2 separate regions of the Homo sapiens genome follow, and region 2 is linked to region 1. Evidence: fine-mapped expression QTL. A gene starts in region 1. The other region holds a variant in brackets. All regions are shown on one strand. Distances are from middle to middle. Region 1 holds the start of DIRAS2 (DIRAS family GTPase 2). Region 2 overlaps LINC01508 (long intergenic non-protein coding RNA 1508).

What was found. PIP is the estimated chance that this variant, and not a neighbour inherited with it, causes the effect.
Region 2: its variant is the best candidate, but not a certain one, in a credible set for the expression of DIRAS2 in tibial nerve (GTEx, PIP 0.56).

What each region holds. Positions count from the first base shown.
Region 1 is chr9:90,641,486-90,644,401 of GRCh38, reverse strand. DIRAS2 (DIRAS family GTPase 2) reads left to right here and starts at 1,578. Exons shown (of 2, transcript NM_017594.5): 1 at 1,578-1,650. RefSeq lists a silencer at 1,590-1,639.
Region 2 is chr9:90,343,237-90,346,152 of GRCh38, reverse strand. The region is part of intron 2 of LINC01508 (long intergenic non-protein coding RNA 1508); the gene reads left to right. Among named protein-coding and RNA genes, the nearest start is that of LINC01508, 89 kb to the left of the region's middle. The variant A/G (reference allele first, on the strand shown) is at 1,713.

The sequences.
Region 1 (2,916 bases):
AACTGGCTCTCTTTATCAGCTCCTGATTTGCTCTCCCTGCTTCCATACTAGCACTGGATTTTTGCTTATTTAATCTTTTTACCCTCCTTTGTTTAGTTCTTAAATTCCATTTTGTCATTTAACCTGATAACCTACATTTTGGTTGTCATGGAAAACAACATCCTGACTTATAAAACTGGAAGGTTGTTTCAGGACCCAGAAACTGCATCAGGCAGTGCTCAGAATCCACTGTCATCATATTTGGAGCCTCCTCTGGGATGGGTTTCTGAGTGGCCATATATTCCTTTGCAATGAAGAGGAGACTGTGGAGGACAGGGTGACCACTCTGCTTTTAGACATCATTAGTGTAGGGGCAGGTTTGTTGAAGTAGCCTTAAATGACTTTAGTAAAAAGAGTGTATTTTTATTTTTATATTCCAATGGCTGTAGGATCAAGGCCAGAATTAGGATGAACTGGGGAATAAAATAAGTTTTCTTGACTATAAGTTGTAAAATGCGTAGTTTTTAAGTATGATTTTTAAAAAGCATATTTCCTGTGAATAGCAGGGCAGAATTTTACTATGGAAATGAACTTCAAAGGTTAACATGTTTTAATTATTTAGAAAGTGAAGACGGGATTAAAACAGATAAATAGGATTCTACAACAAAAATCAAATGTAAAGAACTACAGAATATTAATTTTGCTCAAGTCTTTTAGCATATTTGGTATTACAAAAGAATGAGTAATATAACCAAGAGAAGAAATCTTCCTTCAGTCTGTAGTTTAAACTTAACATGGATCAATGTTATGCTCAAGCACTTTTAAAAATGCCTGCACAGAATTGTTAGCCATTAATATTTTTTCTTGCTGATTCACCTGTTTTTTAATCAACGCGTCTTTGACAAAATTGTTTATCAATGTCAGGAAATAAACGTGGTCATTTGCTTGAAATGCTAATGTGAAACCACTCAGTGAAAAAGCAATTCTAATCCAAGCTTGCCAATGGCGGTGTTGTCATAGGATCCTATTAAATTAGAATATATTAATCTACACTGTGTGGTTGGCTATGGTATGGGGCAGGGCATTTCGTCTGCCTTTAAATGAGTCGGTTTTTAAAAGTTAAAATCTGGAAATGGAAAAAAAAAGTCTATATGGTTAGTAGCGATTATAGTTCGCAATGCGAACAAAAGAATCTGGTTCCCTTTCAATGGAATTATTTTAATTCATTAAATTATCAGAAAATTCCAGTCCTCGCCATCTATTCCAAGAGCATGCAGTAGGTGGCACCTAAAAGCTCTTTGGAGGCGAACAGGCGCCATTTAAGCAGGAGCAGCAGCCTCTGCAGCAGTTGGCACATCTGAGAAGGCAGAGATTGAAGAGAGTAGGAGGAGCGTGCAGCGGCGGTGACAGTGCCAGGCCGGAGCGGCTCAGGCCAGCGCAGGTGCAGGGGCTGCGAGCGGGTGGAGCGCGAGGGCGCTGGGCGCAGGGAGCACGGCCGGTGGGCGGTGCAGGGCGCACGGCGGGCGAGCAGCTGACAGCATCGTCACGGCGGCGGGAGGGAGTGCGCTGCGCCTGCCTCCGGGAGGAGCCGCATCCACACACCCTGCGCTGCCCTGTCCTGCGCGAGTGGAGCTCTGAAGAAGCTCTGAGCGGAGTTGTGTTCTTCCCCAGGTAACCGATTTCCCCCTTCTGCCGTGGCTTCGCTGCGTCCGCATTGGGGCACGGGCGGCTTTGGCATGATTGTTTGCCAGCCCCTGGAAAGGGATTACCGCTCTCAGGGAGGGCGAGTCAGCGTGTACTGGAGTTGGTAAGAGGGGAAGAAATCTGCATTTCTGTATCCTTGTTAGGGAGGGTGAGCATCATGCTGTCCTTGTCTAAAACATGTTCTTTTTTAAAAATCTGTATCTTACGTATTATTAGGGATTCCTTCCAAAACAGGATTTACCGTTTTGGAAAATTCTACTGTGCAGGTGTTTCTGTTAATGTGGAAGTTTAATGGATTTAGGAAAAGAGTAAGAAGATGTGGTCTAAAGTGAGAAAAAAGCCAAGCACGCTAGGGACTGCCGTTTGGTTCGGCATGCTTTCATCCTCGACTCCTTCACTTCATGCGCTTGGCCGAGACCTGTCTAAATCTTTTGTTTGTCTTCTTAAAGAATGTGTTTCATGATATCTACATGTGCTCCTTTCCGCTTCCTTGTTGTAAGAGCAGAAGATGGGCAAGGGGCTGCATCCAGTCCTTAGTTGTAAGACTGTGGTTTCCCATCAGATGACAATGACTGCTGACAGCTCCCAGGCTCGCCTGAAAAGCAGTGCTGGCTTCTGGCGTTGTGGGAACCTGCCTCTCTCCTTCTCTCTTGAAAAATGCTGTTTTTCCTCTTTAAAACTCCAATTCACATTCTATGTGGGTTTGGGAGACTTTTAAACTAGAAGCTCTGTGAATCATCTGTTACATCCATTGAATGCTGGAATACAACATTGTGGTGGAATTCAGTTTCTTCCTACTGTGCAGAGACACAGCTTGCCTTCCCTAGGAATTTATTTTACATATTTGCCCTCGTTATCTTTTAAATGGATCCCTTCAGATGTGAGAAGCTAGTCCAGCATATCAGAACTTTTCTGCTTCAAACTAAAAATTTTCAAAAATATTATTTTTGAGGAAGATTTTCCAGGTAACGCTAAAAGTCTGGAGCATTTTACATTTCAAATCAGTCACAATGTGCTCCATTTCCAGTGACATTTGGATTTGAGGAGGTGGAGGGGGAGGGAGAGAAAAGGGGAGGATAAAATTAGAATAAATTTAACAAATTTGTAGGGGAATCATACTTTTTTTTCTTCTTGGTTGTTGTCTGAAATTGAAAATTGTCCACAATTTTATCTATCTCTGGAAATGCAGGAGGCTTTGTGGGCTGGGGACAGGAAGACACATAGTTCATTTTA
Region 2 (2,916 bases), 300 kb after region 1:
GATGGGCTTTCAGTGAGCCTTTCAGAACTTGCTTTTTTTTTCTTTTTGGTAAGAAGAAGCTCTTCCACATAGTTAAATTTTGAACCATAGTGAGTGGGGTTGCTGAGAGACAAAATGCAGCCCTCCAAAATGTGAGCAGGATGCAGCATATATACACACATATGTTACACTACCAGGTAAGCCTCAAACAGCAGTCCTTCCTGAATACAGTGAGATACAGCAACATGAGTGGGGGGCCTGAGAACATCCCCCTAAGTATTGAGCTAAATACCACAGAATGGCAGAGGAAATGGGGTCACAATTATAAATTCTGCAGATAAGCAACATTTTAACTTCCTGTGACCTGACTTCCTTACCTGTAGAAGTGGATTAAACAGTGGTGAAAAGAAGAGGGGAAGAAATCAAATGGATACAAGTACATGCTGCTATTTAGAATCAGACAAGCAGAAAAAGTAAGTACTCAGTCACCCAACAGAGACCTGGGCTGGAGGGGTATGACTATGGATCGTGTCAGTCTCATCTCACTGCCAAGCATGGATGGGAATTGTGAGGCGGAGTGAGTGCCCTGGGCTGTGCTCGCATCACATGGGGAGAAAAATGAATCTAGCACAACCGAAGTCGCCACTGATTCTGTTCATTTTGTCTCCCTCCCCATCGCTACCACACATGATTACCTTAGAGACAAACGGCCAATGTCAGAGAAGCAAAGGCAGGCACACAGTGACCTTGTGTAAACCAGTGTAAACATGTACCAGTGTAAACACAACACATACAAACACACACAAGAAAGAAAGAAAGGTGTAAAAAACAATAGTAGAAGCCTGGCACAGTGGCTCTCGCCTGTAAACCTAGCACTTTGGGAGGCCAAGGCGGGAAGATCATGAGGTCAGGAGTTTGAGACCAGCCTGACCAACATGGTCAAACCCCATCTCTACTGAAAATACAAAAATTAGCTGCACATGGTGGCGGGCACCTGTAATCCCAGCTACTCAGGAGGCTGACGCAGGAGAATCACTTGAACCCAGGAGGCGGAGGTTGCAGTGAGCTGAGATCGTGCCACTATACTCCAGCCTGGGTGACAGCGAGACTCCATCTCAAAAAAACAAAAAAAAAAAAGTAGAATATGATTCTGAAGAATCACAATAGGAAACAGAGATTTTGAAATAAATATCCCTTCCCTTTAGGCAATTAAAGTAAACATGAACTGTGTGAAAAAATATGACAAAGATTTAAAATCAAAAAAGAAAATGTGGGCAATTGAAGATAATATGCAAGCTGGGAGAAAGAAATGTAAAATAAAACTGAAAGCATTACAGAAATGAATTGCCCTGAAGACTCAGTCAGGGTCAGGGAGACTAGACTTAGGTGAATTGCAGAGGAAGAACTAGAAAGTGGGAAAAAACGAAGAGAGAAAATATTGCAGAGAAGTTGATTGATATGTGAGTCTGGCAAAAAAAAAAAAAAAAAAAAAAAAAAAAAAGCCAGTTCCATATAACTAGTGTTTTCAGAATGAAGAAACAGAAAATATATTCCTTGTTTTAAAAATAAACTACGATTTCTTTAGTTAAAAAAAAATCACTACAGTCTGGGTTATTTAAAAGTAACAATAGATCTGGATGATCAACACTAAGTCGTATCCCCATGAAGTTACTGAATTGGAAAGATTAAATAAATAAAAATAAAAATTCCTTGATCCTTTTAGCTAAAATCTC[A/G]GTCATCTCTAAGAAGGAAATATAACTGACCTCATACTTTTCCATTGAATTTCTTAATAACCGAGTGAGGACAGTAATATCTCCACAGTGGGTAGGGAAAGAATATAAGGAAAGAACATTCTTTGAATTCCTCAGTTCACTAGCCAGATACATTCTTTTTATTTTCCAGTCTGACTCTTTTGTTTGTGGGAGAAATCAGAAGATGTAGGAGGTGTCAAAACTAGTTTTCTGGGCAGGATACAGCATGAATCAGTGAAACAAAAGAAAGCAGAATTGTTTCAAAGCAACCCATGGTAACAACAGCAAAAAGTGTTTGTGGGGTTGGAACAAAGATCATTTGCATAGAAGCAGCACACCCTGTGGCCTTTCCACTTGTCTGACTTATGCTTTGCCTGGGAGATGGACTCAGCCAAGCACCCATTTAAACAACTAGCATCATTCATGAGGCTCTGATGGAATTAAGTGACCGTATATCCTCTTGAGCTGCTCTGTCCTAGGAAAATAGAACTTGGCCAGTCCTTCCCCAAATGGATCTGGTGATGAATGATGATGGGGAGAAAGTGAAAAGGATGCAGCAGAATTTGTCCATGGATTAAAATTTAAAATTAGAATTTTATTTTACATAAATGGAAAATAATGAATCAGCTGGGAAAAATAAGAGTCTGTTGAACAACTGCTGTTTTTCTTTAAAAAATGTATTATGGAGCTTAGGAGTTGGATTGATTGGAGTTGGAGGGAGGACAGAGAAGAGTAAAAGAGACAGAGATAAAGGCTAAGAACAAAGAGGCAGAAAGGTCAGTACATTGGACAGCAACAAAGGAGTGTTAAGGGCAGATGTTCGAAGGCGAATGGAGCCAGAGTTGGTGACCAGTTTAATGATCAGTGAAGACAAAAGCTAGTGTCTGCAGAGAAGCTTAGTAATGACACTTAAGCTAATTAGGCCTGTAGATCCTTTGAAATGGTCAGGGGTTTGGCTTAGGCTCACGGAAGGCTGAGTTGAGAAATTGGACTGAAAGCAAATACTAATGACTTGATTGAAAGTCAATGAATTAAAATGGCATCTCTCTACACTACTACCCCATTGTCATCCTGGGAAGGAGGCTGCAGCTGGCCTGGTTTCCGATGTTTAGAAAATGAGTTGGGCCAGGTGCGGTGGCTCATGGCTGTGATCCCAGCACTTTGGGAGGCTGAGGCGGGTGAACCA